Regions from separate parts of the Homo sapiens genome. Here region 1 is linked to region 2. The links come from fine-mapping of genetic effects on gene expression. A gene starts in region 2. The other region holds a variant in brackets. All regions are shown on one strand. Distances are between the middles of the regions. Region 1 overlaps CSRP1 (cysteine and glycine rich protein 1). Region 2 holds the start of CSRP1 (cysteine and glycine rich protein 1).

Region 1 (16,038 bases), 24 kb after region 2:
CCCAAACTGTTTTATTCTGGATAGCTGGGCATAGCTCCCCTCTGAGATTAACAGGACGAAATATGAGGCCCACAGCCTTTCCAGCTCAGACCATTGCAATCCCTAGTTCCTTCCGTTCCACTCTCTCTTACCCCAGGAGTCAGGAAGTTCTTCTGTGTCTGACCCTCACTTCTTCCTGTGGTAAAGTGATTTCTGAGATTAGAAACTTCAAATCCTCTTGTGATTAGCATGAGCTGCATCCCATTTCAAAGCCCACCATGTTGGGCACTTAATAAATGTTAAACATTTCTTATGGGGTATCACATCACCTGCATCTCCCCCCGTTGGCTCCCTGCCAACATGCACAGATAGTCTCTTCTGGATTCCACTGTTGAAGGCAGGAAAACTGCCCTTCTTTTCTTTTTCCTCCTCCCCCATTGGGACATATGGTCTCTGTTGAGGGCAGAGTGAGGAACCTCAACAGGCGTCCTGTGGCTTGGGGTCAGCCTAGGCTGTTGCCTCTGAACCCTGTGTTGCACTGCAGCCTGAGGAAGTTTAGGGGTGCAGAGGACCAAAGGAGACACATATGGATTCCTGGAAGAGGAATTGGTGTTGGCCAGCATTTCTAGAGTCGGATATGCAGATCCCATCCCTCTGTCCTCCCACCCATTGGCCATCCCGCCTGCCTCCATTTGTAGACAGTTCCTGAAAGATCAGGATATTATGTATGCAAAGAGGCCAGAGAGCTTCAGCTGTAAGAAGCTTGCAATGAGCAAGAAGGTCACCCCAGCTTCAACTCAATGCGTCCGCTTCCCCTTCCCCTCCACAGTGGTCTGCAAGAAGAATCTGGACAGTACCACTGTGGCCGTGCATGGTGAGGAGATTTACTGCAAGTCCTGCTACGGCAAGAAGTATGGGCCCAAAGGCTATGGCTACGGGCAGGGCGCAGGCACCCTCAGCACTGACAAGGGGGAGTCGCTGGGTATCAAGCACGAGGAGTGAGTAAAAGATCCCCTCCCAACCTTTTTCTTGAGCTCTCTCCCCCACCCTGTATTAGGCCTCATGTGTATTTACAACCATTTTTGGGTAAGCAATGGAAGGCTCAGAAAACCAGTTATTTAAAAGGCAGTCACAGAGCAGTGTCTATGTGTCAGGCTGCTGCAGGAGCTGGGGATGCAGCAGGGACTAAAACAGGCTGGGCTCCTCCCTGCAAGGAGCGTGCATTCTATATTTGTATGAGAGTCAGAGCTGGGAGGGGCCCCAAGAATCACTTAGTCCAATTTCCTCTTTTTTTGTTTTTTTTTGAAAGGGAGTCTTGCTCTGTCACCCAGGCTGGAGTGCAGTGGTACAATCTTGGCTCACTGCAGCCTCTGCTTCTTGGGCTCAAGTGATCCTCTTGCCTCAGGCTCCCGAGTAGCTGGGAGTACAGGCATGTGCCACCACACCCAGCTAATTCTGTATTTTGTAGAGACAGGGTTTCACCATGTTGCCTCCTCTTTTTATAGATGAGAAAATCCAGCCCAGGCTCAGTGACTTGCCTGGGGTCCCACGGCTAGTGAGTGTCGGAGCCAGATCAGGGGCTCAGGGCAGCACCGTTGCCACACCAGCCTCACTGTCTCAGCCCTGCTATCTCTCACTACTGAGAAGAAGTCATTTCCCTTTCTTCGAAATGCCATAGGGTGTCATCAGCCCCACCACACCCCCCTCACCCCACGGCACTCCCTGGCCTCTGGGTAAATGGTGGCTGTTGGCAGTCAGCCTGGCTTGCTCCTCGGCCTGGGGGGTGGACGGAAATGATGGATGAATTACCAAGTTTCAGCCAAGGTCATTGCCCCAGTGGGAATGATTCATCAGCAGATTTCTCCTGTAAAGAATCTGATAATAGACCAGCTGCAGGAATGAGGGGCAGAGGAGGGCAATTCTTAGCAAATGGGGTGTTAAATGATTCTGGGGTTAACTGGGTGACCGAGGGAAGTATGATGTTACAATGGAAATAACATTGTGCTGAGGCTTGGTTTGTCCATCTGTAAAATGGGAGATGACCCTAGAGGCCCTAGCCTTTGTGACTTTGGCAGAGAGAATTGCGCGCTGCTCTGGCATGAGATGAAGGTAGGGTCATGCCCTCTCAGTGCCAGCCCCACCTGTACTTACAGTGTAAGTCACCTCACCCCATGCCCTTCTCCATGCAGAGCCCCTGGCCACAGGCCCACCACCAACCCCAATGCATCCAAATTTGCCCAGAAGATTGGTGGCTCCGAGCGCTGCCCCCGATGCAGCCAGGCAGTCTATGCTGCGGAGAAGGTGATTGGTGCTGGGAAGGTAAGGTGGCTGCTGGGCATGAGAGGGATGGGGGGAGATATCTTCCTGAAATGTGGATTCCAGAACTTTTAAATTGGTGACCTAGCTCTGCTCAGGGCAGCCTGAGCACTGGGGTTTAACCTCTTCTCTTTGTCCCTGTGGGTTGCATGTACCTGTGCTTTCCAGTCTCCAAGGAGCTCATATCAGCCATGAGCAGTAACATCCCCAGCATTGATGGACAATGGGCAATTCATAGGGAGTGGCAATGATCAATCTGTATCTCTAATATAGGAGAACAGAAAGTAAGGGTACGTGGATGGGCTGCAGAGGGTCCACAAAGCCCTGAAGATTATATACAAAGTTTCATGGGAACCTGTCTGTTTCTTAGAAGAAGATCCATAGCTTTTATTAAATTTTCAAAGGATTTGTGATCCCAAAAATATACATTCTGTTTCATGGGATGTGGACTCCCAAAAACCCATCCAAATACCCCCAGGGCAGAGATTTTCAAGGTTCAGACCTACCAGAGCCTCCTAGGAGGCTTTTTTCACACTGTTTAGAATTGCCGCACATGCCCTTCCCCCATGATATTCTGACAGTAGCCCCCAATCACCAATGCACAGTGAGAATCACTGTAGCAAATCAACAGTTCCCAATTGAGCTGATCACTTCCTTCAGATAGGCTGCAGTAGAGAAGAGGCAGAACTCTTGCCCCTGGGGTTTGCAGTGTCAGATTAGCAGTCAGAAAATCACAGAAGAGATGTCTTTCAGCTGTGGGGCCAGAGAGGAATTCTGGAGCATCACGTGAGGCCTGAGATAGAAAAGTGACTTGGCCAAGATCACACAACAAGGTTATGGAATGTCTGGGCCTGGAGCCCATCTTCATCTCTTCTGGATTCAGGTTTTGGCTTTCAAGGCTTTTTGACCTTGAGGAATGGGATAGGGGAATTGATCAAGAAATGTTAAACAATTAACACTTAGGCCAGTGTTAGAATCTCTACTCTCACAGTCATGGTTGGACAGAGATGGGGATTAGTATCCCTGTTGTACAGATGAAGAAACTGGGAGTCAGGAGGATTACATAATTTGCCCAGATCCGCTAGCTAGGAAGGGGCTAAGCCAGACTCAAGCCCAGGTTTGTCTGACTCCGAAGCCCTTGCTCTTACTGCTGTTACTACTGTTAATGCTACTTTGGGCCATTTAGCCTCTTCAAACCCATTTCCAAGGCTGCAAAATGGGAGGGGATCCTAGCACGGTGATTAAGAGCTTGGACTCTAGACAGCCTGCTTTGAATCCTAGTTTTGCCATTTATTGGCTGAGCGAACTTGGGAAAATTTAGCCTTCCTAAGCCTCAGTTCTTCAGCTCTAAAGTGGGCCTGGATGGTGGAGGAAATGCAAAGTGGACCAAGTAATGGCCCCTGACAAATAAGGCAGTTTTTTTTTGTTTGTTTGTTTTTGTTTTTGTTTTCTTTTGGCAGAATTTCACACTTGTCACCTAGGCTGGAGTACAGTGGCGCGATCTTAGCACTCTGCCTTCCGGGTTCAAGTGATTCTCCTGCCTCAGCCTCCCAAGTGGATGGGACTACAGGCACGCGCCACCACACCCAGCTAATTTTTGTATTTTTAGTGAAGATGGGGTTTGACCATGTTGGCCAGGCTGGTCTTGAACCAGCCTGGACCTCACGATCCACCCACCTCGGCCTCCAAAAGTGCTGGGATTACAGGTGTGAGCTACCACACCCAACAACAAGGCAGTTTTAATGATTAAATGAGATAGTACATGTATAATGTGCAATGTAGTGCCTGGTATGTCCTCAGTACAGTTTTGCTATTGTTATTATTATTGTTGTTTATTTTCAGGGATTATTTTGAGGTCACAATGAAGATCCTTGCCATTGACTAAAGGATATGAAAACAGGAGACATTAATATTATTATTAAGTTGGGTTTTTTGTTCTATCTCATTATGAGAATAGAAAATTATTAAGAATAGCTAAGAATCACTATTTCCATTACTTAGGCAGGCTATAAGGTAAAGTTAGGGCTGTACTAAGGAGTAGGATAAGAGAATTTTGCATTCAAGTGGAAAAGGTAGGGAGAAGCCCCACCTTTCTATTGCCTCGCTCAAGAAATGTTGAGCTGGGAGTACTTTTGGGTGCTTATGAATGAGCAAAGGGATTCAGCTTATTTTGGCAGGGAGGTGGCTAGGAAATATGAGGAGAGGTGTTGGTCTAGGTGTGATTCAGTTTTTCTCCAGCCTAGAGAGCTTGGGGTAGCAGCCCCTGCTTTACAGAGGAGGCAGCAAAGGCTGGGTGACTATTGAGGTTGCACCAGCACTGACCTAGACCCAGGTCCCCCCATTTCAGCTCTCTGGAGGAGAAGCCAATGTGCAAGGTTAGGCAACCAGGAAATCTGAGGGGATGAATTTCCTTTCTCATCCACCAGCCTGGGCACTGGGAGTGTCTTTGCCCTTAAAAGGCCTTGTTTTGTCTTATCTGACTGCTGCCTGCCTCTTGCTTTTCCTGGGTTAAGCAGAGCTGTCTACACATCAGCCTCTTAGCCTGCCCAGCTGTTGATGGGAACTGGCTGCGGAGAAGTCTGTCTGTGCAACGTCCCATCACTGTGTACAAACTCGGGCCTCACTTTTTTTCTGGGACAGCTGTTTGCCCTGTGTTACAGAATGCATGTGAGGACTAGATATTTAAACATATGATGCCTGGCCACAGAGAAGGTATTTGTAATTGGATTCTCCTGGACCAGCCCAGCCTCTGAAGTTCTAGAATTAGGTGCCTCCTTTGCCCAAAGGCTATCAGCTATTGGAGGGGAGGGTGGCAGTATGTCCCTCACTGGGTAGCTGTGAACACTAACTGACTTCACCAGTGTAAAGTGCCTGGCACAGGGCCTGGCACAGAGGAAGCCAGAGTCAATGTTGTCTAGTATCACTTTGGAAGGAGAATAAGTCTATGAAATGCATTAAACTCAGCAGGGAAAGTCCTAAGGAGTAGTTTCTCCAGGGGCCACAGAAGACCCTTTGGGTCTCTATGAGAGGCCCCAAGGCAACACAGGGCAGAGAGGTCTTTCTGGTGAGGGCTGTTCAAGTACTAAGTGACAGTACCAGGAGGAGTGCAAAGCCCTGGCTCACACCACTGATCTACTGGCAAGATGGGTCTGGAGAAGGCTCATCTGGCCCAGCCAGTGGGGTAACAGCTACTTTGGTGTTAAACCCACCCCCTCACCTGCCTTTTGTGGTATAGCTGGTGACCCTAATCATCAGGCCATTGCAACATAGCATGGAAGATGGTGCGAGGTGGCGTGTGGTCCCTGGCCTTCTCCCTCTACTGCCTTGCACCATAGGCCATGTCCTCCCAGCAGCACCAGCTGAGTAGACTTCAGAAGTGGCTTGAGCCCTTATACCATGGTTATGTCAAAGGGAGTGGGCCTGGGGTGGAGGGTACCCTCATCACTGGTGGCAGCCATTAACTATTTCCTTCCCTGCCTAGTCCTGGCATAAGGCCTGCTTTCGATGTGCCAAGTGTGGCAAAGGCCTTGAGTCAACCACCCTGGCAGACAAGGATGGCGAGATTTACTGCAAAGGTGGGTGTTTTCACTTCTAATTGAGGGTCAGGAGGCCCAAGGGGGTAGGGGGGCTAAGTAGTTTTGCCTTTGCTGAATGTAAACTAATTCCTGGCCTTGGGATCCAAGATCTGAACATCTAGTATGATTCCTTCATTGTACAGATGAGGAAACAAGACCAGAGGGGGAAAGCAACTTGGCCAGCATCATCTGGCAAATTGAGGCAGGCATAGGGCTAGACCCTGGCTTCCTAACTCCCAGTCCAATGTTCTTACAGCAGATGATGCTTCTATAATTTTGGTGGCAGGGGCAATGGGTACAGGGTACAACCAAGAGCCTCTTCGCTATTTTACTATTGAGATTGGGGTGCTGTGGAGGTGAGGGGGTACCAGTGGACCTTCCTTCCCTAGCAGTCTGGCTGGGCACTAGGAGTGGGGGATCTTCAGCAGGAGGGTGGGTGGTGTGGCTGGGGGTGGAGGAAGAACATGCCCTTATCTCTCTCCTCTCTCTGCAGGATGTTATGCTAAAAACTTCGGGCCCAAGGGCTTTGGTTTTGGGCAAGGAGCTGGGGCCTTGGTCCACTCTGAGTGAGGCCACCATCACCCACCACACCCTGCCCACTCCTGCGCTTTTCATCGCCATTCCATTCCCAGCAGCTTTGGAGACCTCCAGGATTATTTCTCTGTCAGCCCTGCCACATATCACTAATGACTTGAACTTGGGCATCTGGCTCCCTTTGGTTTGGGGGTCTGCCTGAGGTCCCACCCCACTAAAGGGCTCCCCAGGCCTGGGATCTGACACCATCACCAGTAGGAGACCTCAGTGTTTTGGGTCTAGGTGAGAGCAGGCCCCTCTCCCCACACCTCGCCCCACAGAGCTCTGTTCTTAGCCTCCTGTGCTGCGTGTCCATCATCAGCTGACCAAGACACCTGAGGACACATCTTGGCACCCAGAGGAGCAGCAGCAACAGGCTGGAGGGAGAGGGAAGCAAGACCAAGATGAGGAGGGGGGAAGGCTGGGTTTTTTGGATCTCAGAGATTCTCCTCTGTGGGAAAGAGGTTGAGCTTCCTGGTGTCCCTCAGAGTAAGCCTGAGGAGTCCCAGCTTAGGGAGTCACTATTGGAGGCAGAGAGGCATGCAGGCAGGGTCCTAGGAGCCCCTGCTTCTCCAGGCCTCTTGCCTTTGAGTCTTTGTGGAATGGATAGCCTCCCACTAGGACTGGGAGGAGAATAACCCAGGTCTTAAGGACCCCAAAGTCAGGATGTTGTTTGATCTTCTCAAACATCTAGTTCCCTGCTTGATGGGAGGATCCTAATGAAATACCTGAAACATATATTGGCATTTATCAATGGCTCAAATCTTCATTTATCTCTGGCCTTAACCCTGGCTCCTGAGGCTGCGGCCAGCAGA[G/T]CCCAGGCCAGGGCTCTGTTCTTGCCACACCTGCTTGATCCTCAGATGTGGAGGGAGGTAGGCACTGCCTCAGTCTTCATCCAAACACCTTTCCCTTTGCCCTGAGACCTCAGAATCTTCCCTTTAACCCAAGACCCTGCCTCTTCCACTCCACCCTTCTCCAGGGACCCTTAGATCACATCACTCCACCCCTGCCAGGCCCCAGGTTAGGAATAGTGGTGGGAGGAAGGGGAAAGGGCTGGGCCTCACCGCTCCCAGCAACTGAAAGGACAACACTATCTGGAGCCACCCACTGAAAGGGCTGCAGGCATGGGCTGTACCCAAGCTGATTTCTCATCTGGTCAATAAAGCTGTTTAGACCAGAACTCTGGTGTCCAATCCTGTGTCTGTGGAGCTGGGAGGGAACTCAATGGGAGCAATCAAATTAGCAGGGGCTTTGGGAGGCCGAGGCAGGCGGATCACCTGAGGTCAGGAGTTTGAGACCAGCCTGGCTAACATGGTGAAATTCTGACTCAACTAAAAATACAAAAAATGAGCCAGGCATGGTGGTGGGTGCCTGTAATCCCAGCTACTTGGGAGGCTGAGGCAGGAGAATCGCTTGAACCCGGGAGGCAGAGGTTGCAGTGAGCTGAGATCACACCATTGTACTCCAGCCTAGGCAACAAATGTGAAACTCTGTCTCAAAAAAAAAGCAGGCAGCCTGGTGGAAATGAATCAAAGTGGATTCGTTCCTGCTTTTTCTAAGGACCAATTACTTCTCAGTATCAATGCCAACTGAACCACACTGTCTGAAGTGACCCGACCAGCCAAACACCACTGGCTTGTCCTGTCTGGTCTCCACCCCCAAATCTGGGCCTGGGAATTGCATGGACTTTGGACTTGGAGGGGCTCAGCTAGGCCCCAAAACTGTGCTCAGAACTTCTCCCAGCTCGGAAAGCCCCAGCCTAAGAGGGAAACTCAACCAGAGGAACTTTCACGTCAAATCTAGAAAGCTCACTTCTACCTAGGAGGGGTGTGGTGGAGGGGCCTGGCTCAGCCTGCTGTGCTGTTAGGGCCCCCACAGCAAGTCCGTGGAAGGCCACATTTTTTTTTGGAAATAGGTTCATGTGAGGGGTTGCGGCATCCTTCATCTTAGGCATACCTGCCTGATGCGTTGGGGCTGTGCTGCTTTGCTTCAGCCCTTCTCGAAAATGTGCCCACACTAAGTTTTCAAAACAAAAGCAGATGCTTTAATAACAACAAGGCCTCGTGTACCTATTTCCCAGATGACCAGCTCCAACAGTGGCCTTGACAGAGGCCCCTCCTGGACTCTGAGAAAGGCACCTATGCATGCATAACACCCATCAATGGTGCAGAGCAATAGAAAAGTACAAGATGACCGGGAGAAGAGCTGGAGGAGTTCAGGGAATGCCAGCCCAGGGTGGGCTCTGGCTGGGAGTTCTGCAATCGGGGTCAAGGGCTCCATCTTGGTAACCCCTCTGGCTCCAGCACAGGGGGTGGCCCACGAAAGGTGCTCCGGACAAGTTTCCGCAGCCAGGAGGACGGCTGGTTCCACACACCCAGGTGGACCCTTCTGTCTGGGAGGGGCCTACAGGAGTGGCCCGGATGGGAGCCTTTGGGGCCCAAAGCTGGAGAGAGGCTGCCCTCTGCTGGCTGATCGGGAGGGCCTGTCGGCGACCGTCCTGTGCCTTGCACCACTAGCTGTCTTGCTCCCGGGCCACTGTTTTTCAGTGCAGCCCCACGGTGGGCAAGGGGCCCTGACGCACCTCCTGGGAATAAGACCTGGGTAAAGGCAGTAGGCTGTAAGCCAGCTGCGGCCAGGCCAGGAAGCACTCACTGGACGGTGAAGGGCCAGCCAGAGGGGCGCATCAAGGAAGGAGGAACACCAGGCAGGGGAGGCACTTGGGGAAGGAGGGTCGGCTGACGGGGAGGGGGCCCAGCATCTGCAAGCGCGGCGCTTGCGCCGTCCCGGGAGACACCAGGTGGTGCTGTGGGGTCAGGGCAAAAGGCAGGCGCTGCGTTTCCGCGCACCCCACGCCCTCCTCCTCTCTCTGTGGACCCTGAGGACTCAGCTCCTGCGCAAGACAGCGCACGCGTCTAATCCCCGACGCTCACTTCTCCTTGGAGGGCTGTCGCGCTTCGGGGCCCTGTGGAATACCAAACCCTCACCAAAGAGTGAGCAAGGACTCTTTTTTTTGAGACAGAGTTTTCCTCTTGTTGCCCACGCTGGAGTGCAATGGTGCGATCTCGGCTCAACGCAACCTCCGCCTCCCGGGTTCAAGCGATTCTCCTGGCTCAGCCTCTGAGTGGCTGGGATTACAGGCATAAGCCACCCCGCCCGGCTAATTTTTGTATTTTTTTGGTAGAGACGGGGTTTCTCCATGTTGGTCAAGCTAGTTGGCCTAGAACTCCCGACCTCAGGTGATCTGCCCACCTCGGCCTCCCAAAGTGCTGGGATTACAGGCATGAGCCACCGCACCCGGCCAGGGTGAGCTAGGTCTTTATGTCCACTTAGGTATTTCTTTTCTCGTTTCTGTCATCTCCGAGCAAGGCGTCCAGGGCGACCTCGGGAGAATGTGTTTGGTGGGAGCTATGCCCAGCTGCAGGAGCGGTAGAGCCCTGGGCTTTTTAGGATGTGATGGAAAATAGCTGCCGCTCCCGATGGGCGGCAGGCCCAGCCTCCTCGGGCTGCCCTTCTCCAAGAGCCTTAGCAAATTGTCCGGGTCACCTGAGAGGCTGGGGAGGGACAGGAAGACCACGAGGCCGACTGGAGGGTGAGGATAGAGATCTTGGGTAGCGGGGGTTGGGGGGCGTTAGAGCTGCTATTAAGTGTGGGAGTGATCCCTGAATCAAGGGCCACAGAAATTATTCGAGAGGGGCTCCCAATCGCTTCTCGACCTTTTGGCTAAGATCAAGTGAGGGGGGCACCCAGCGAGGAACGATCCCCCGACTTAGATCAGTGGAGGTGAGTGTGGCGGAGTGAGGAACACAGGGATTAACAACTGGAAGGTCCGGCCCTCCCCGCGCCTCGCCTCCGTGCCACGCCCAGCCCCGGCCCCGCCTCCAAGCCCAACCTTTATTCTGAGAATCATTGGGGAAGCCTTTAAAAATGGATTCCCAGCCCCACCCCTAGAGATTCTGATTCGGTTGGCCTGGGTGGGGCCTGGGAATCTGTATTCGACAAGCTGCTCTGGTGATTCTCTGACGCTTGCCCGGGCTCAGCCGGGCTTGAGAACCTGCGGACCAGCCCAGCCTCCTAGTAGGTGCCGGCCTCCACCCGGCCGCTCAACCTCAACCACTTAGCTGCCAACAGCTCCGCGCCCCGCCCCGCCCCGCCCCGCCCCGCCCCGCCCCGCAGCTGGGGCTGCCTCTGAACGGTTCTAATGATTAGAGAGGACTTCCTGGAACTTCCTATTTCTGTCCCCTAGAGTCATCCAGAACAGGTCTAATCCCTCTCCTGCATGACAGCGCTTCAGAGATTTGAAGACAGCTGTCGGCTGCCTGAGTCCGCCCCTCCCCACCAGAGATCCCCTGGCCTTTCAGCGCTTCCTGATGGAGGCACCAGGGAGCCCAGTGAGTCCAGTGGAGGAGGAAAAACACAGCCAGGGGTTGGGGGCCGTCCAGTGGCCAGAGAAACAGACTGGGGACTTGCAATAGGTCAAAGGGAAAAAACAGAGGCAGCTCCCCCTGAGAAACGCCTGTCCCCTGCCTTTCTAGGGTGCAACTTCCTCCAACCTAGTCTTCTTTTGGACATTTTGGAAACATTATTATTCATCCAACTTGTGTGCTTACTATATGCTATAGACTGTTTGAAGACCTTTAATGTATTAACTCACTTAATTGTCACATTACTCATCCATCTCGTGTGCTTAATATATGCTATAGACTGTTTGAAGACCTTAAATGCATTAACTCATTTAATTCTCACAATAGCCCTATGAAGTAGGTGCTGTCATTTTACCCACTTATAACTGATCAAACTGAAGCCAAGAACCAAAGAACAATTCAGCAACCCTCTCAAGGTCAAATTGAGCAGGATATAAATGCAGGCAGCTGGGTCCAGGTCCCATCGCTGCAGTGCTATACCTAACATCCTTGCCTTAAGAGGAGACAATTATGTACTGGGAGTATGAGGCCTGGTGCTGGAATGGTGAGTTAGGACCATAGCAATAGCTAACAGTTATTGAGCACATACTATGTGCCTGGCACTGGTCTAGATGTTTTCTTATTTGATCCTCATATAAGCACTAGGAGGTAATTATATTATCCCTTTATTATATAAGAGGAAACCGAGATTCAGTGAATTTTAGAGACTTACTCAAGTCCCTGGCAAGTGGTGGAGCCAGGATTGGAACCAGCTCTGTGACTTTGGGCCTGCCTCCTCCCCTCTGGGTGTCGGCTCCTCATTTGCGAAGTGAAGACGTTGGCCTAAATTAGTTCTGAGGAAATGCTTCTCAAGCTTTAATGTGCATATGAATCTCCTGGGGATCTTGTTAAAATGCAGATTCTAGTTTTGGGTGGGGCCTGAAATTGGACATCTCTCACAAGCTCCCAGGGGTAGGTGGTGCTGATGTTGCTGATCCTGGGACCACACTTGAACAGCCAAGCTTCAGGGGATCCACCCAACTCTGATGTCCTGAGTTTATGGGCCTAGAAAGACTCACCCTAAAGGCCATGAAAATTCAGGAAGCAGATTATCGTGAATAAAGCCTTTAGTGGGCATTTTCCATGCCTGGACAAGCCCTTAGTTCCTTTTCAGAAGCACCTGCTCCTGAACCTTCTACATTTCCACTCTGTTGACCTCAACCTGACTCTTCAAGAGAGTTCAAGGTCTTGGTCCCAGGCCAAGGGGGATTGTTGCTCCCTGCTGGAGGAGTGAAGAGGTATCTCTGTGGCTCTGCCTTCTGGGTACCCAGCAGTCCCATGGCAATCACACTGTCTAGTCCTTTAAGAGATGTTCACAGATATTCCTGGACACACAGTAATATCTACGTTTACATTTAAGGGTTACATTTGGCCTCTTCCCTTGAATTTTGATGTGGTGATGTGGCTTGCTGTGGCCTCTAATTGAGACCAGAAGTGTCACTTCTGAGCAGACTTCTTTTTTTTTATTTTTTATTTTTTATTTTTTGAGATGGAGTTTCACTCTTGTCGCCCAGGCTGGAGTGCAGTGGCGTGATCTCAGCTCACTGCAACCTCTGCCTCCCAGATTCAAGCAATTCTCCTGGCTCAGCCTCCTGAAGTAGCTGGGATTACAGGTGCCTGCCACTACACCCAGTTAATTTTTTTGTATTTTTAGTTGAGACGGAGTTTCATTATGTTGGCCAGGCTGGTCTTGAACTCCTGACCTCAGGTGATCCACTTGCCTCAGCCTCCCAAAGTGCTGGGATTACAGGCGTGAGCCACCGTGCCTGGCCATCTGAGCAGACTTCTTTAATAGGCACGATGTAAGTTTTCATGTCCCTTTTCCCTGTTGTGGAGAGTGTGGAAGTAGGTGTGATGGAACCTCCAGCAACCTGGATATGTGTATATCTCAAGGAGCAGATATACCTCCCCTGCCAGCTCAAGTAGGACATATGGTATGAGTGGGAAGACCTTTGCTATGTTAAGCTATTGGGTTTGGGAGGAGTTTCTTAGCACAGCATAACCTAGCCCATCCTAACTAGTACACATACCAATATCACCTTAGATAGGCCGAGTCAAGTATGGAGACCATATTTCTACAAAGTCAGGATCGTAGCCTGTCAAAGATCTAATGCTTAACTCTGGGGTCTTCTTCAGTAGGAAGGAATATCTTCTTGCAAAAGTAGGGTGGGATTCCTAAAGATGTGAACTCTTCCTCCCCTTCTTTTGCTAGTCCCTGTTAAGTAGAGAACTCTGATTCACCCATTTGCCATTGTGTCCCTAAAGTCTAGCCCAGGGCCTGAATTAAGAATTAAGAATACTTAATTCTTAATTCACACACAATGGGATTTACTCTGAAGTTCCTTTCTATGAATCTTCCTGTAGATCACATCCAAGAATATGCCATGAGCCTTCCTCCCCTCCCTAAGCCCCTCCACACACCCCTCTGCCTTGAGCAATTTGTTAATTTCTCCTTGACCTAAGCCTCAGGCTGGACAACTCACAGCCTCCTTCTCTGCCTGATCTTGACAATGGCACTGCATAGGAGCTTCCCTGTTATCAAAGTCATACTCACGAATAATAATCTTTATAACTCTCATGATGAAACATTTGAAAATCAGAGGCAAGTGGTAAAAAACTCATCCATGATCTCCTCACCTCGAAGGAACTGCTGTTGACACTGTGACCTTTCCTTTCCTATTTTCCTCTGTGCATTCCCCCTCCCCCCATACTTTTAGGGAGAGCCTATGAATGTCTCCTATTTAGGAGGAGAGGGAAAAGCCACCCACAAATGCAGAAAATGGCACAGCTGGAAGGGGACTTACGAATCCTTCAACCAACTCCCTTACATTACCATTGAGAATGCTGCTTTATACTAGTCTGGGTGCAGATGTGTGAAAAGTAAAAACAAATATCTGGCAAGACCCAAACCAAGCTAAGTGATTGTTGTCTCTGGGGTTGGGGGACTAGAAGGGTGGTGAAAAGATACTGTCATGTTTTGAATCTTTTGCAACAAAAATGTATTCAAGTGTTACTTGCATTTAAAGCACATTATTACTAGAAGAAAAGAGAAAGCAACTTTTATGTCAAGGGTTTCATGGCTATTATTGGCATATTGGTTGAGGCCACTAGTTTCCTGGGTATCAGTCAGTCTCCTCCTAGTGTCATTGCCCCTTGGTCAAGTGTCCTCAAGGAAGAGATTCATTCCAGGGCAGCCCATTTTTTCCTACAACATGGGCACCCAGATGCCAAGATGGCATGGGAAAAAGGAAAATTCTGCAGGCCCCAACCTGAACCATTAGCCCACAAGTCCAATCTCTGTAAGACCCACGCTGGGATCAAATGCCTTCAAGCCCAGACTCAGCCCCATCAGAGGGGGCAGTAGGTGCTCTCAAGACGAAAGGGATTCTTGGTGAATCAGGAAAGTTATTGGGCTGGAAAGTGATTAAAGGGCTGAGCGTGGGAGGGGATTTCCACTGAGAGAGCCAGGCCCAGGAGCAAGCCTGGGCGGGTCGGCTGCAGAGTTGCTGCCCACTTGAAGTCTGTCGCAATGGTGCCCATAAAACCCAAGTCATCAGAGACTTGAAACCTTGGTAGGGTTTTTCCTTCTGTTTCCCTTTAGAAAAACAGAGATCCGAGGAAACCCCAAAGTCCTGGAACAAAGGGCTGTACATCAAAGCGGTGCGAGCAGGTCAGGAGAAGTCTGAGGGAGAGGTCAGCTGGAGTGGGTCTCCCAGCCCCCAGCTCCCAGGGAGAGGAGAGCAGTGAGGGACCTGTGGATTGGAGGGTGGGTGCAGAAGCCTGAAGGGAGAAGCAGGGTGGGGAGGAGCAGGGCTGTGAACAGACCCATTTTCATGCCCCATCTAGGTGAGGAGGCACTACCTGGCCTGAGGAATCCAGGGAACAGGTTGAGGAAGGAGTAGTGATGTTTTCTTTTCTTGCCTATACAGGGGTTACATAGCTCCCATAAACTAGCCAGGCTTTTTTTTTTTTTTCAAATATGCACTGAATCTGCAAGATAGAACTTGACAGCCTTCATTTTACAGATGAGGAAACTGAGGTCAGAGAGAGGAAGTGATTGTGTAAGGTGTCACCAAGCTTAGGCTAGGACATGGGTGTCCTGTCTCCTACCTGAGTGCTCCTTCCCCTACACCAGTGGTTCTCACACGTGGGCGTCAGAATCACCTGGAGGGCTTGTTCAAACACGGATTGCTGGGCTCCAAACCCGGGTCTGGGGTGGAGCCTAGAATTTGTATTTCTAACAAGTTCCCAGCTGATGCTGACTCTGCTGGCCTGAGACTACATTTTGAGAACCGCTGCTCTAGACCCTTGCTATCTAAAGTATGTTCTGTTGACTAGCAGCATCAGTGTTACTTGGAAGCTTCTAGAAGTGCAGAATCTCAGGTCCTACCCTAGACCTATTCCATCAGAATCTGCATTTGCAAGATCCCCAGGTGATCCATTTGCACACTGCAGTCTGAGAAGCGCTGGTCTATGCCACACACCTCTTTCTGGACTGGGGGTCAAATTGAGGCAGCCTAGATGAGCCTTCCAACTCCAGTTGCCAGGGGATAATGGAATAGGTGCCCAGGGTCCTGTGGGGGAACCAGCCCCTTTTTTGTGTTCCCCAAGGTTGGGGAGTTCTCTCCAGAACTACAGAGACAGGAGGGGCTGCATGCTCAGCTCTGGGTTTGCTCGGTTCTAGTGTACACACCCGACATCAGGAGGCTCTATGTGCCCACCTTGGGGAATCCTGGGAATGCCTGGAGGCCAATAACTGCCATTCAAGCCTCTAAATCAACCCCTGCTCTGAAGCCAGCCCTTGCGTTTGAAATTCTATTTCAAGAACTTATGTAATACCTATGTGTTTATTTTATTTTAAAAATATGCCTAATACATGAGTATGACATCCAAACCATATTGAAGCATGCTCATAAAATGACAGGCATTCTCACACTGCCCATCCCCATCCTGGACATTCCATAAGTAACATATCACTGTGAATTGAATCCTGTTAGATATAACCTGTACAACAGAGGTGGACTTTGTTCATTGTGGCCATGCTATATACCTTATTAACTCACTGTACTGTAATGTTTCCCCATGAAACAACGTATTTCAGGCATCTCAACCTACTAAGACCTGTAGATCTGTGT
Region 2 (16,038 bases):
TCTCTTCGAAGAAATGTTTCTCATAAGTCTTGGTGAAGATGGCTCAGTAAATACTTCTAAAACCTTATGTTTTCCCTTAGCAATGCCAAGTCTGTAAAAACCACTTTCTTTCCTAAAAATGCATTTCTGAAGGTACCATCAATGAAGATCTCTGCCTGAAATGACCTTCCTGCCAGCAGCAAGTTGTATTTTCCCCAAATGGTTGCAATAATGCTTTCCATTCCACATACTCTTCCAGAACCTTGCCACTCACACATCAGGAAATGGAGTCTCTGTCCCCTTCTTTGAAACTGGGTGGGGCTTCGTGACTGTCTCAACTAGTGGAGCACAGGGGAAGATCTGCTATGGGCCTTGCGAAGCCAGTTTTCAAAAGGCAAGACAACTTTCTCCTGCTATCTCTTGGGATGCTTCTCCTTGCAACCAGCCACCATGCTGTGAGAGAGTCCAGGCCCCATGGAGAGACCACATGTAGGGGTTCTGGCTAACAGCCTCAGCTGAGGTCCCAGCTGACAGCCAGCATCAGCCTCCAGCCACAGGAGTAAGGGAGACTCAGTGAAGAATCCAGCCAGCTCTCATTTGACTGTAATCACAGGAGAGATCCCAGCAAGAACAATCGGCTGAGCTTGGGAAAACCCTAAAACCATGAGAGAGAAAAACAAATGACCGCTCTGTTACACTACCAAGTTTGGGGTGGTTTGTTGCAGAGCAATAGGTAACCAGAATGCTGTCCATCTCCATACATTATGAGCCTAACCACCCTTTATGGCCCAGCTCATTAGCCTGTCATCTCCCATGTAAGCCTTCTCTGATCCCCACAATGGAGTTCTCTCCCTGTCTGAACTCCCGGTGCTCTTCCTGTGCCAGTCTCCTCTCCCACATCTGGGTGCACACTTCAGCTCTCCCCTCCCTGTAAAGTCTCCATTCTCCATTCATATCTCTCGGCACCTAGCCCAGTGCTTGGCACATAGTGGGTGCTCAATACAGGCTTTCTCTGTCTGGATGCGTGAAGGATAGGGAAAGGGATCTTGGGGAGAGAACATCTACCAGTGGAGAAGAGAGGGTCCTGAGTTGCAAAACAGCTTCCAGGGCTTTCAAAGGCCTTTTTCACTGACTAGTGTCCTAGGACATTTTTGGCTTCTCTGCTAAGAATGTAGGATATGAGTTAGAGTCAAAAGGATTTATGAATAAGTATCAAGTTGTCAGAGGTGTTTGAGCTGGAGCAACTCCATCTTGTGTAGGGGATGTGTAAAATAAGGCTGAGACCTACTGGGCTGCATTCCCAGACGGTTAAGGCATTCTAAGTCACAGGATGAGATAGGAGGTCAGCACCAGATACACATCATAAAGACCTTGCTGATAAAACAGCTTGCAGTAAAGAAGGATGCCAAAACCCACCAAAACCAAGATGGCGACGAGAGTGACCTGTCCTCACTGCTACACTCCCACCAGTGCCATGACAGTTTACAAATGCCATGGGAACGTCAGGAAGTTACCTTATATGGTCTAAAAGGGGAGGCATGAATAATCCACCCCTTGTTTAGCACATAATCAAGAAATAAGCATAAACATGGGCAAAAAGCAGCCCTCAGGGCTGCTCCGTCTATGGAGTAGCCATTCTTTCATTCCTTTACTTTCCTAATAAACTTGCTTTCACTTTACTCTATGGACTTGCCCTGAATTCCTTCTTGCGTGAGATCCAAGAACCCTCTCTTGGGGTCTGGATTGGGACTTCCTGTAACAAAGGGCTCCTTGGAAAGAAAGGATTGTCCAAGCTGAGGGTTTTCTTAGGATTACAGTGTATGGCCACTTGGGGGAGCCGAGGTGCGGCGAGGTGTCTTTCACAAGTTCACCAGCAGGTGGCAAGCTTATTCGTGGTTTCTTGCAAACTATGGATTTATCCACGCACACATTCATAAAATACTGAGCACCTACTCCATGTAAGGCTCTGTGTGGCTACAAAGGAGGGTAAGCTACAATTCCTGCCCTCCAAGACCTTCCAGGTGAGTGAACTCAATGTTTCCTTAGCTTGTCTTTGGGTTGAAATAGTTCTTCAAAAGTCATCCAATCCTTTCTTCTGTCAGTGTAATTTAATATAATCGACCCTGATGGAGGAGAGGAGTCAAGAGTCTTGCCAAGGCCGGGTGCAGTGGCTGACGCCTGTAATCCCAGCACTTTGGGAGGCCGAAGTGCACGGATCACCTGAGGCCAGGAGTTTGAGACCAGCCTGGCCAACATGGTGAAACGCCGTGTTGCAGGGTTTCTACTAAAAATACAAAAATTAGCTGGGTGTGGTGGCGCATGCCTGTAGTCCCAGGCTGGGAGGCTGAGGCAGGAGAATCGCTTGACCCCAGGAGGTGGAGGTTGCAGTAAGCATAGATCGCCCCACTGCACTCCAGCCTGGGCAACAGACTGAAACTCCGTCTCAAAAAAAAAAAAAAAAAAAAAAAAGAGTTTTGCCGAAAGTCTGGTTATTTTCAGTCTACTTCACTGCTTTAAGTAGATTGGCCAGGTGATCATAGATAAGATCAGAGCAGTGAAGGTGGTGTGGCTAGGGACCAGGAGAACAGGGAGAAAGAGATTTTAAAGCAGGAGGAAAGCAAACTGATCAGTAGATTAGGAGCTGGCGTGATTGGAACTGGGCCTGTCAGAAAAGCCTCTCCTGAGCCTTCAGCCAGCTCCCTGTGGCCACACTTCCCTAGAGCCTGTCAGGCTCGGAACAGTGGAGCCATGCACAGCCAGCTGCCCGGGAGCTCCCTGCCGCCTGCTCCCGCCCTGAGTCCCCAGCTCCTCCTGCTTTCCCCTCCCCACACTTTGGCTGTGAGAGCCACTCCACAGTTTTGCCTGTTTGGGACAGAGGCAGTGGCTGCAGAGGGAGCAGGAGGGAAGTGACCTTACATCAATTTCAGGCCAAGGGGAGGGGAAGAGGAAGTGGTCATTTAAAAACCTATCTAGACTGTTTCACAGTGTTCTTAAGGACCCAACCCTGAGCCACCCCAGTGCATTTCTGAATATCACCTTTCAAGCTCCCCTGGAGCTTCACAGTGTAAATTTCAGCCTGAAAATCAGAAGAGATTTCTGGATCAGGAACCCCCTAGAGTTTTTATTTTGTTCCTTTCTAAATGGATTTCTCCTTTTCTTGCCTCTAAGCATTTTATTCTTATAACATGTATACACTGCCTTTTCCGATTTTCATTTGCCTCTGGCTGCCAAGCTCATTTCTCCAGCAAACCCTGAGAGATTCTAGGAATCTTCCTTAGAAAACATGAATACAGGGACTGAAAGCAAATGCTGGGCCTTATTCCACAAGCCCCCTTTGACTTGCCTCATCCTAGCCTAGGCACAGCCGAACAGTGCCAGAGCCAGGGAGAGCCTTGCAGATCACCCACGTGGGTAGGCGGGCCTAGTCATATTCCCAGGGGCCCACAGAGATACTACCCACCAAGCACGATACATTTCCTAAGAACTCCATTTCTCTGAACAGTAAGTAATTTTATTTATTTATTCATTTATTTTTTGAGACAGGGTCTCACTTTATCACCCAGGCTGGAGTACAGTGGAGTATAGTACGGCTCACTGCAACCTCTACCTCCTGGGCTCAAGCGATCCTCCCACCTCAGCGTCCCTAGTAGCTGGGACTACAAGCATGCCACCATGTCCAGCTAATTTTTGTATATTTTGTAGAGACTGGGTTTTACCATGTTGCCAAACTTGGTCTCAAACTTCTGGACTCAAATGATCCACCTGCCTCAGCCTTCCAAAGGGTTGGGATTACAGGTGTGAGCCACCGTGCCTGGCCAGTGAGTCATTTTAAACATTATCTTTTTATGAAGACAAATACAGTTATGTGCCAAGGAGAATGCAAAATTCAAATAAATTTTTGCAATAAACCCCAAGACTTCAAGGACTGGGAGTGGATTGATTCTGACAACACTGTGGGTTCCTTACATTTACTTCTTTGCTGTCAGAGGTACCTCAGTGGAAATTTTGGAGAATACTGAGTTAGTCCAACCTCCCATTTCACACATGAGGAAAACTGAGGCCTAGGCCATGGTCACAAAGCTACTAAGTTAGCTACTGCTGTAAGCCCTGGTCTCCTCACATGCAAAGCAGGGGGTAAAAATAGTCCTTACTTCATACAGCTACTGCGAAGATTAAAGGGGACAATTGTGTAAAGTACCTGACAGGTAGTAAATGCTTAATAATTATAATTATTCCTCATTATCAACAGTATTTTATTTGTTTTTTGTTTTTTTGAGACACAGTTTCACTCTGTCACCCAGGCTGGAGTGCAGTGGTTGGATCTCGCCTCACTGCAACCTCCACCTCCCAGGTTCAAGCGATTCTCTTGTCTCAGCTTCCACAGTAGTTGGGATTACAGGCACATGCCACCATACCCGGCTAATTTTTCTATTTTTAGTAGAAATGGGGTTTCACCATGTTGACCAGGCTGGTCTTGAACTCCTGACCTCAAGTGATCTGCTGGCCTTGGCCTCCCAAAGTGCTGGGATTAAGGCATGAGCCACTGCGCCAGCCATCATTAGTATTTTAAATCATAGATGACAGAGCTGAGACTCAAACTGCAAGTTTAGGGCTGGATTTTTTTTTTCTTTTTTTAGACCATTAGATGAGTAAACTTCTTGAGGTCAGGATCCAAATTATAGGCTTCCTTGTATTCCCAGAACCTAGAGACCAGCACAGAGTGGGGCCCCAATAAATGTCTTCTGAGTGAATGGTTGGATGGATACATGGATGAACAGGTGGATGGACGGATGGATGGATGGATGGATGGAGGGAGGGATGGATGGATGGAGAGACAGATGGATGAACAAATGGATGGATGGGTGAATGAATGAATGGATGGATGGACAGATGGATGGAAGGATGGACAAGAAGATCTCCAGCCCAGACTGGATCTCTAATTTCTCTGGGATGATGAGCAGAGCTAAGCCAGACACATTCCCTTACTCTTTCCTCAGCCTCACACTCAGGTCCTCTTCACTTGGGATCAATGCGGAAAAGAAGGGTTTCACCACAGGAGAGGAGAGAGAAGATGTAGCATCAGGATGCTGATGAGGGAGGAAAGAGAAGAAAAGATGCCAGAGGAAGCAGCAGACAAAGTTGGAAGCTGGAGGACAGGGGCCCTACTTCCTGCCTGTAACAGGCCCCACTTCATTCCTAGCAGCCATCAAATACCAACCCAGAAGTGTTGGGAAATAGAGTGCACAGAGAGAACATAAAGATACTGAAAAGGTTAGACATTTGTGAGAGTCCTGAGAAGCAGGTAAGCCCCTAAGTGTGCCAAGCCTCCTTCTAGAACCCCTAGCAGATAATTTATTGGTGATGAGCTCTGACTGCATTGTCTCTGCAGATGTGGGTGCTGCTGACCAGCTCGGGCCAGTCTAGATATGGTTATATAAATGAGGTCAGCCAGAATGAGAACCTCTGCAGAATGAGAATCTCTGCCTTAAGGATGTCCCAAGTATTGATGATGTTTACTGATTTTTCTGTCATTTCAACATCAGGCTTGTTCCTGTTTGCATGGTGGGTAACCCCAGCATCACCTTTGACTCAACTCAATCCCAAAGCCCTTCCTCATCCCTCAAGTCTTCTTTATCTGCAAATGTGCTATCTAAGACCAAGCCCAAGTAACTGGCAGCAGGCTGGGAGAATAATATAGTCAGAAGGTGAGAGGTTCTGGAAAAACACCAAACAAGGCAGGTCCTACTTGGCTTCATCTGTAGCTCTGCGTAGACAGCTCCTAAGACAAGTGACCTGACAGTCTTTGGGTGGAAAAGAGGGGTGACCATCTGCCCTGGACTGCCTGAGATAGTCCTGTTGCCTTAGTGTAGTTACGAATACTACCACATACCACTTACTATCCAAAGCATTCTGGTTTAGATGACACATTGTACAGCCATTCTGTTTATAAGGTGCTTTAAGATCTGGGAGAAATCCAAGTGTGACTGCAGTGACTGCTCTTCTTTTTCTGGATCTACCCTAAAGCCATTTCACAGCACAGGTTGGCATGTCCTCACAGGGAAATCTATCAACAGTCCCATGACTCCAGAGAGGACAAACCCAGACCAAAGAAGGTAATGTAGGAGTTTGCCCTTTTGTAAAATCCTGGGCAAAACTCCGAGGCTCATCTCTCCAAGATACTGAGAATTGAAAGGAGAGGGGGAAATCCCATGGGATCGCCATCTTTGGGCGGAAGCCCTTGGTCTCTGACACTGATGGTGGTTCTGCAGTTTAATGGACCTGTTTAACTATTGCTTAGTCAGTGCAGCCGTGACCAGAAATTCTTCTGGTTTCTCCTCCTTCATCTTGGTTGGGTCAGATGAAGATGGCCCAATCTGCAAGAAACACTGGTTGTGTGCTTCTAGACATTTTAATCTTGGAGGGCCTTGTTTATAGGATGGACCTGGCCAAAGGAAAGATGTTACTTATGGTAGAAAGCAAGAAAAACCTAGATAAACACTTTTTTTTTTGAGAAACACTCTTGCTCTGTCGCCCAGGCTGGAGTGCAGTGGTGCAATCTTGGCTCACTGCAACCTCTGCCTCCTGAGTTCAAGTGATCCTTCCACCTCAGCCTCTCGAGTAGCTTGGATTACAGGCACACACCACCACGCCTGGCTAATTTTTTTAATTTTTTTGTAGAAACAGGGTTTCACCAGGTCTCGAACTCCTGGGTTTAAGCAATCTGCCTGCCTCGGCCTCCCAAAGTGTTGGGATTACAGGCGTGAGCCACAGTGCCTGGCCAAATACTTCATTTTCTAGATCATAAGATGCTTAACTTTATTCCTGGCAAAAAGTTGATTCAGCAAACCAGGGCTTTAAGTGAAGCCGGTTGGGGCCTGAACCCTTGACACCTGCCCAGGGTGGAAGACATAGCAGCTGCATCTATGGGCCACCTGGGGTGTAGGGTGACCAGCTGGAGGCTGTGAGCTTCTCTGCTCCCTGAAATGCCTGCACGGGGCACTCAGGAAGGGCTGGGGACTGGGTGAGGAGGTGTGGACAGAATGTCCCCTGGAAACTGCCCCAGGGGCAGCTTGAGTGGCCTGAGCCTGTGTCTGTCCTACTGAAGGTTGGAGCCCCAGAGAAAAGCCTCTATGGAGGCACCCACTTTTCAGAACTGCTGCTTTTGCGGGAGAACACCTTTTTCCAGGTGTTGTCCTTAGGGTAGCAGGGAAGACTGGGAAAAACTGAGGGGCAAGAGCTGTTGGAGGGGGGAGTTACATTTATTGAGTGTCTATTACATGCCGGGTGCTGCTGAAGGTCTGCGGGTCCTACCGGATCTCCTTTTAGCCCCTCACATCCCTGTAGATTACACGCCGTTCACAGATGACCCTGAACCCAGAAGGGCTGTCTAGGCCCAGGGCCCAGCTAGTGAGTGGATGGGCAGAATCAGACCTGCCCTGGAAGGGTCTGTCTTACCCTGGCGCCCAAAATGTGTCCCTCACCCTCTGCCACCAGGACAAGTAAATTCGAGACACCCTTTCGTTAGGGGCTCAAGTTTATCATGGGTCTGACCTCTAAGGTCATATCTCCGCCTTCTCACCTGACAGACAGGAAACTCCTGAAATGCCCCTCGCACGTGCAAGACGTTTTCCGCGGTGGCGGCGACAGGGCGCACAGTGGGACCGCAGCACGAGCTCGGAGCACCCCCAGAGTCGGCGACTCCTGCCCCCGCCCCTGCCGGCCGGCCTTCCCGGGGCCTAGGAGGGCAGCACCGCCGGGCTTCGCGCCATGACATCAGCCCTGGAGTGGTGCAGTGTGCAAAGCCCACTGGTTGGCGTGGCCCGGGACACGCCTTCCGCGGAGCGGAACAAAACGGCGCGCAGGCCGGGCGCACCCAGCCGCCACTTCCGAGAGCGCCTGCCGCCCCTGCGCCGCCGAGCCAGCTGCCAGGTGAGTGCGCCCTGAGTCGCGCGGCTCTGCCCGCCGCGGAGGGGCGCCTGGGCACGCACTCAGCGCCTCCCGGTCTTGCCAGCCCCGCCGCAGCCCCGGGGCTGTCGCAGGCGGGGAACTGTGAGAAGTGACCGCAGTTAGCCCGGGCAGTGCTGCTCTTTTCTGGAGGCACTAGGTCCGTCCCCATCCCGGGCCTTCCTGGGCTTCCTGGACACAGTTGACTTCCGCGTGTGCGTGACCCAGGGCGACCCGGCTCCCCGCAACCGCCTGCAAGTCGGGCAGAACAATCGGCGATTCTGCGCGCCACTGACGCTCATTGTATGGCAGAGAGATGAGGGCATCCGTGCCACCCCCTCCCTCACCCTCCTGCTGGGGAGAAAATGCCCGCGGGCGGGGTGGGGCAAACATCTGGGCCTGACCTTGGACATCTGTGTCCCTGAGCGCAGGTGTGAGTTTTCCCTCTTGTGAAATAACTGCATGGAAACCTCTCCACTCCAAATCTTGGTGCTAGGTGGTGATGGTTACTGAAACCTGAAAGAGCCTGCAGTCAGTGTTTTGTGGCCTCAGTCCTTGAAAGCTGGGAAGTGATAAAGGGGCTGGTATTGAGCACATTTAAAGCAAATCACAATGTGTTAGCTAACAATCAGCCCTCTGAGGCAGGTATTGTATCTACTGGTACAGACTAGAGAATATTTTGCATGCTTCTGGTTCTGGTGCTGTTGTGAACTAACCAGGACCCAGGAATCGGCTGGAGCAATAGTGGGCTCAGGCTCTGCCTAGAGCCCTGGGCTCCAGCCACCCACCAGCTGCTCCCTGAGAGTGAATGAATGGGCAGGCTCTCCCCACGCTGGGATACTATCACAGTGGCACCGAGGAAATCCACTGGGCCCTGGTAGAAAGTATATCAGTATATCATGAAGAGGTGGCTTGGAGTCTTGGTGGGATTGTTTGGAAGGCAGAGTTTTGACTCTTGGATTTGCCACTTAACGCGCAGGTTTCCTTGGACAAACTATTTAACTTCTCAATGTCTCAGTTTCTTTCAGGGATGCTACTTGGGGAGCATATTACACAGAACCTCCAACACAGGAGTGATCTCTCAGTTACTGTCTTTCTTGTCCTCCCCTCATCCCTTGCCTTCCTCCCAGAAGCTAAGGAGGCTGGAGGTGCTGGTTGTCTCCCTCTGTCCTCTCAGACTGCATGTTGGGGATTTTCCCCAGGTGGGATTTGGGGATGGGTACTGAGCCTCCCCTCAACTGCTCTCACTCAACTGCTGCCTCCTGACTCTCCAGCTGGTTTCTGGCTACCTCTTTTGAGAGAGACTGTCCTCAGCCCTCAGCTGCTGGAGGGCAGCTTTTACCCATTGTTTCCTAAATCCAGCCTCCTCCTGCTCACGGTCTTCCAGTGAATGACTCTTTGCCTTGGAGAGGATATCCGGGGCGGAGGCAGTCAGACGAGGAAGGAAGTTTATCCTGCAGAGGGTGTAGTGTGGGTTAGAGGAGAGGGAGGAGAGAACTGTCTGCAAGGCCTGAGATGCCCAGGATGGAGGGTATGGGGAAGAAGAAGCAGGAGAGAAACTAAAGAGAAGGCCCATCAACTCTGCAATTGGCCTGCTAATAAAATGGGAAAAACAGGGGTGCTGTGGCCTATTTGCCTGTGGTCTGTCTTAGCACCTGCCTTCCTGGCCCAGGTGTTTGCTCTTTTAATTGCACACATGTGCATCTGCCTCTGGAGCTAGTGAGTCCTGACTGGGCCAGAGTTGCAGCCTGGGAGTGTAGTGACACTTGACTGAGTGATCAGCAAACATTTGATGAATGAGTGGGGTAGCAATGGTCTTTCAGCTGAGTTGGCCTACGGGATACTCATAAACCTTGCAAATAGTTACTAGCCAGTTTTTCCACTTGGGTAGATTGACAAGCAGGTGAGAGAAAAAAGGCGTAGGTTTTTTTTGGGCTTTTTTGTGTGTTTTTGTTTTGAGGCAGTCTTGCTCTGTCACCCAGGCTGGAGTGCAATGGCGTGACATTGGCTCACTGCAACCTCTGCCTCCTGGGTTCAAGCGATTCTCCTGCCTCAGCCTTCCAAGTAGCTGGGATTACAGGTGTCTGCCAATATGCCCAGCTAATTGTTTGTATTTTTAGTAGAGACGGCATTTCGCCATGTTGGCCAGGCTGTTTTTGAACTCCTGACCTCAGGTGATCCACCTGCCTCGGCCTCCCAAAGTGTTGGGATTACAGGCATGAGCCACTGCGCCCGGCCTGGTGTTTTTTTTTTTTTTGGAGACAGCGTCTCACTATATTGGCCAGTCTGGTCTCGAACTCCTGGCCTCAAGTGATCCCCTCCCTGTCCCCACCACCATCTCAGCCTCCCAAAGTGCTGGGATTACAGGCATGACCCACTGCGCCTAGCAACATAGTTTTTAATTCACTGTCCATCCCTGGTGTGGGAAGCAAATTGGGAAGGCTTTTCTGGCAGGTTGTTAAAGTTTTAAATATGTATGTAAGCCTAGCTTATTGTGAAACGTTGGCTTGCTAGATGAAGACACATGCGTTAAATATTTTGGGATCCAAAGAGGTGCTAGTGAGAATAAGACTTTTTCCTCCAAGTCAGCCATTTGGCATTACTCAGGGCATATTGTCAAATATCAAAAGAGATACAAACCTGAACGATAAGTGTTAGAGTTGGCCTCTCCTTAAGATAAGGATAACCAGATATCTGCACTTGCAGTGTACCAGACAGTGTGAGAAATACTTCACATGTGTTATCTTGGACAATTTATGAGGTAGCTACTGATGCTCTCCATTTTACAAATGGAGAAACTGAGGCTCAGAGGTAGTAAGAAACTTGCTCAGGATCACAGCTGATCAGTTGTGGAGCTGCCATTCAAACATAAGCTGACTGTTTCCAAAACGTATGCTCAGTCACTACCTTATTATTTTTCTTTGCTCCTCTACATTTCCTTTTTCCAGATCAACTCACTAAGGAAATATCTGCCATTTGTGAAACACATCAGCTTTACAAGGTGCTTTACAGTGGCTTATAAACTATTTAAGGAAGATATCTTTCACTTGGATGGATCAGGGTTAGAACTCCTGACCTCCGGGTTTTCAGTCTGTTGCATGGCCAGGTAGGAGCAGAGGGGACCCCTGAGAGTTAGTTCCCAGCCACTAATGGATATGCTTTCACCAGCTCTGCATGTTTGAGTTTCAGAGCCAGGTTTGCAGAAAGAAAACAAGCCTGGAAAAGAGCGTGCTTGAGAAAGAGAGAGCTAGCAAAACTTGAGGGGAGGGCAGAGAAGGTGAGGTGGAGGGGTCCTGGGTTCCGACTGCTGTTTCTAGTTGTCAAGAATTTATATGGTAATGACGTGCCTGTACTACGCAGCTACCCAGGAATGTGTCTGACGCCAGCACTGAGTAATTCCCATGTATGGTAAAGTGTGTAAATACGGGGGCAGCTAGCATTTCCAGACTCTGGTATTTCCAGTGCTTCCCCAGGGCCAGAAGGCAGCGTCTGAGTCTTCAGCGGTGACAACAGGGGAAGAAATGGAAGGTTAGCAGCTGGAGCTCAGCCCCAGCTAGGCAGCCAGCACCCCCTACCCCCGACTGTGTGCCTGGCTTTCTTTATGCAGGGGTGGCGTGTGTTGGTGCTTCCTGGGATGTCAGCTGCAAACGACCTGTGTTTTTAAGGCCTAAGTGCTAATGTGTTTTAACTTGTAAAAAATTAATCAAAGAAAAATCATTCAGACCATTTTGTTCAGCATGGAATAACCAACATCATTACAGATCTGGATAAAAGCAAGGAAACCCCATCTGTTAATTTGTCTATGAGGCTTTATTATAATACAGGATTTCCTGTAGAAGTTTTGAAATACTACAAAGAAGTCATCGACCTCCATTTCTACCTGTGTTGACCTTCAGACTTCTTTTTTTTGAGACAGAGTTTCGCTTTTGTCCCCCAGGCTGGAGTGCAGTGGCACGATCTTGGCTCACTGCAACCTCTGCCTCCGGGTTCAAGCAATTCTCCTGCCTCAGCCTCCCAAGTAGCTGGGATTACAGGTGTGCACCATCACACTCAGCTAATTTTTTTTTTTTTTTTGTATATTTAGTAGAGATGGGGTTTCACGCTGTTGGCCAGGCTGGTCTCAAACTCCTGACCTTAAATGATCCACCCACCTCAGCCTCCCCAAGTGCTAGGATTATAGGAATGAGCCACTGCGCCCTGCAAACTTCTGAACTCCAAGAGTAGGGAGCTCTGCTCTAGAAGGCACTGGGGGCAAGTGGGGAAAGGGAGAGACATATACCGCCCTTGTCAGCTCACAGTCTCACAAGGGCCACTGGACATGGATTTGAAAAGAGAAAGCTCATTCAATAGAGAGAAGGATTCCTGACCTAGAATGACAGTCAAGTTCTGGAGGCCCATGGGGCCTGGATTGATGGTAGCTCAGTGATGCTGGTTACCTTTTCAGAGAGGCGGGTCATGTGCACGGTTCTGAAGGAAACATGAGGTGGGACATGGAAAGCTGAGGCCAAGCCTGCCCCATCTCCATGGCAGCCATTCTCCCCCTACCCGTGACCCTGAGCTTCAGGAGAGGCTGATTTCCTGAGCTCTCAGGTGTCACTTCTAAGACTTGGCTCTGAGCCCTGACCAGCCCAGCCCCCTCCTCTCTCTGCCCTCAGCTGCTCTCTGGACACTGGGGCGTGGAGGCAAAAGCCGAGCTGCAGATTGGAAGGGATGCCAGCCCTCCTGTCCACCTGGCAGATACCAAGCAGCTCAGCTAATGCGAGGGAGCTAGATAAACATCTGACAGGTTTCTACTGGAGCAAGTGGATGGGGACTTTAACCCTGTGCCGTCAGTCACTCTTTGGCCCTAGGGAATAAATGATTTTGGAATGGGAGAGATGGGATTTTTCCACTGTAGAAATAAAGATATGGGATGGTTTTGAAGGGTTTGATAAGAAGGGGCTTGCCTTCAGACACTGGTGGCTGGCAGTTAGGGATTTTACATCTCTGCGATGGTTCCTTCAACCTGTCACCTGAGCCAGACTTTATTTATTTATTTATTTATTTATTTATTTATTTATTTTGAGACTGAGTATTGCTTTATTGCCCAGGCTGGAGTGCAGTGGCAAGATCGCTGCTCACTGCAACCTCCATCTCCTGTTTCAAGCAATTCTCATGCCTCAGCCTCCGGAGTAGCTGGGATTACAGGTGCCCGCCACCATACCCGGCTAATTTTTGTATTTTTATTAAAGATGGGGTTTCACTACATTGGCCAGGCCGGTCTCGAACTCCTGACCTCAAGTGATCCGCCTGCCTCAGCCTCCCAAAGTGCAAGGATTACAGGCGTGAGCCACCACACCCAGCCGAGCCTGACTTTCATGAGATTTGGGGTGACTGAGAGTCTGTGACCTTTTTCTTCTCCTTTTGCTGCTGCTGTAAGAGCTGCCACCTTGGCTTTCTTGTCTCAAGGCTGAGGATCTGGGTACAGTCCTAACTGGGGATCTGGGTACAGTCCTAATGGGACAGCCAGGCTAGGAAGATGCAGCAGCAGACACAGCAGGCTTCTAGCCGCCAGCCGTTTCAGGAAAACAGCTGACCAGGTGTTTCCAGCCATTCAGTAGAAAATTCAAGCTCTGTTCTCTGTTGAGATGGTCAACAGAGTGAAATGGGACATCACAGACAGCTGGGGGGAGCTAAACCCCAAAGAAGGGCAAGTAACTTGTCCCAGACTCATTCGCTGGGCTAGCAGATGAATCAGGAGTTCCTGGCCCTATTTGGCATGGTACTTCTTAAGCCTCGCTCCTTCCATATGTGGACTAGCTACATGTGGATGGCTGGCCCACATCTAGCAGTGTGGAGTCGACGTATGACTGGTCCAGTCGTGTGAGTGGTAGTCAGAGGGGCGGGCACTTACAGTGTGCTGGCCATCACTTCCATACCTCCTCATTTAATCCTTACAGCTGAATTTTAGGGAGTCCATATACGGTCCATTTTAGAGACAAGCAAATTGACACTCAGAAAGGAAAGTAACTTGCCCAAGATCATTCAGCTAGGAAGGGGTAAATCCATATTGATCGAATCCCAGCTCTTGTTTTCCTAACCATTGACCTGTACAGCCTGAACTCTGACCTTGGGAACTTCTCTTGTCCCAGCCTTCTGCAGGGCCTCTGTGCCGGAGAGCTGGGAAGGCAATTAAGAAGGAGCCAAGTGTCCCTCTAAGGCACTCCATGAACTCTGAGAAACAGGTTTCCTTTTAAGGCAATTCGGCCTCCCTACAGGCAGAATTTGGCTGTTGGAGAGAAGGGCAGAAAGGGAGGAGGTGGAGTGAAGACTGAGCCCTGCCTGTTGCCAGGGTTCCCTCCAGCTGAGCCTCTTCCCCACAGGCAGGGTCACCTGGAGGGGTCCTCTTGTGGGCAGAGGGGGACAGGACCTCATCCACAGGCACTGCCTGAAACCCTTCCTGGCTAGGGATAGAGTCATCACTTTTCATCTCAAGGCAATAGAGCCCTGTCCTTTCACTGGGCTCTTGAGGGGAGACCCCCCACCCTCGCCCTAACTAAATGACCAGGCTCAAAAGAGCAGCCTGGCTAAGAGACGTCCTGAGCAGATTTTCCTTACTGGCAGGTCCTTGGGTTTCACCCATTTCTCCGCCCATGTTCTTGATTCCCTGGGGCCCTGCTGGATGTGGGCCCCTGACACGGAGCCAGGGAAAACAAGGGGAGGCCTGTATGGAGCTGTGGGTCTCCCCCAGAGGGAGAAGGGCTTTTGTGTCTGTAACAAAACAGTGCTTGGAACTGGCTCCCAACCATGTGGCTAGGGGAATTTTCCTCCCTTAGGGGTGTTCCTAGGGGCCTGAGTATGTCCCCTGCTGGTTCAGGGGGTTGGAAAAGGAGAAGGCCGAGGAAGAGGGCCAGCACTGATGTATTGTATGCCTATCATGAGCAGCCCCTCTTAAATATGCAAGGGCCACAGCATGGTGACTGGGACCCAGAGGATTCAGAAATAGATGAGCTTGCATTAGAATCCCAGGTCTATCTCTTCCAGCTGTGTGACTATAAGCAACTTGCCTAACCGCTCTGAGCCTTGCTTGTCTTGTCTGTAAGGTGGGCATACATTCTTTATCTTCGGATGATGAGGATGAAATGAGATGATGTGGCTGGGAGCAGTGACTCATGCCTATAATCCCAGCACATTAGGAGACCGAGGCAGGCAGATCACTTGAGGTCAGGAGTTCAAGACCAGCCTGGCCAACATGGTGAAACCCTGTCTCTAATAAAAATACAAAAATTAGCCGGGTATGGTGGTGGTGGCGGGCGCCTATAATCCCAGCTACTCAGGAGGCTGAGGCATGAGAATTGCTTGAACTCAGGAGATGGAGGTTGCAGTGAGCAGAGATTGTGCCACTGCAGTCCAGTCTAGGTGACAGAGTGAGACTCCATCTTGAAAAAATAAAGAAATGGGATGATGCAGATGAGCCATCTGATGCATAGTAGGCATTCAGTCCATGGCAGTGTGGGTGCCATGGCTGAGTTCCAAGGGTCACATTGAGTCACCTTATCAGAGGGAGAAGAGAGCTTGTGTGGGTCTGTACAACTGGATACATTATTCACAAGAGCTTCCCAAGCAGACCTCCCCTCACATCTCACTGGCCAGAAATGGTCTCAGCCTGTTCCTGATCCAGCCACTGGCAAGGGAATGGAATCTCCATGGTTGGCTTAGGGGACAGAGGCTCTGTTCCTCCATCTGGGGAAGGGGCATCTCCCCAGTCATTCAATGGCCTGAATAAAATCGGGGTTTTGTAGCAAGGAAGAAGGGGGAAATGGCCGATGATCAGGCCGACCATAACACACATTGCTGATTGCTGTTCCTGTCTAACTGTCCTTCACATCGTACGGTTTTCAGCTCCAAACCTTTGCTTGACAAGGGCAGCTAGCAGTCCTCAGTACAGAAAGAGGCTGAAGGAACAGTGCAACATCAGAGGCTGGGAATGGGGACTGTCCCTGGATCTGGGGGCTCAGGCCGCATGGGTTATCTGAGGAAGACAGAGATGGGGATGTGAGCAGTTACAGAAATTCCTGCGGGGCATGTCAGCGATGTGTGGGAGCCTGAGGAAGTGCGGCTGCTCCAGAACCTGGG

The links. PIP is the estimated chance that this variant, and not a neighbour inherited with it, causes the effect.
Region 1: its variant is fine-mapped to the expression of CSRP1 in whole blood (TOPMed, PIP above 0.99).

What each region holds. Positions count from the first base shown.
Region 1 is chr1:201,475,115-201,491,152 of GRCh38, reverse strand. CSRP1 (cysteine and glycine rich protein 1) reads left to right here. Exons shown (of 6, transcript NM_004078.3): 3 at 809-977; 4 at 2,169-2,298; 5 at 5,777-5,870; 6 at 6,364-7,623. The coding sequence ends at 6,440. Among named protein-coding and RNA genes, the nearest start is that of PHLDA3, 14 kb to the right of the region's middle. RefSeq lists an enhancer at 7,836-8,165 and a silencer at 10,546-10,635. The variant G/T (reference allele first, on the strand shown) is at 7,259.
Region 2 is chr1:201,498,940-201,514,977 of GRCh38, reverse strand. It overlaps CSRP1 (cysteine and glycine rich protein 1), which reads left to right and starts at 7,855. Exons shown (of 6, transcript NM_004078.3): 1 at 7,855-7,908. CSRP1-AS1 (CSRP1 antisense RNA 1) reads right to left here and starts at 7,765. Exons shown (of 2, transcript NR_160747.1): 1 at 7,559-7,765. LOC124904484 (a long non-coding RNA gene) reads left to right here. Exons shown (of 2, transcript XR_007066793.1): 2 at 4,977-5,254. RefSeq lists an enhancer at 2,553-2,762 and silencers at 2,913-2,992, 7,524-8,153.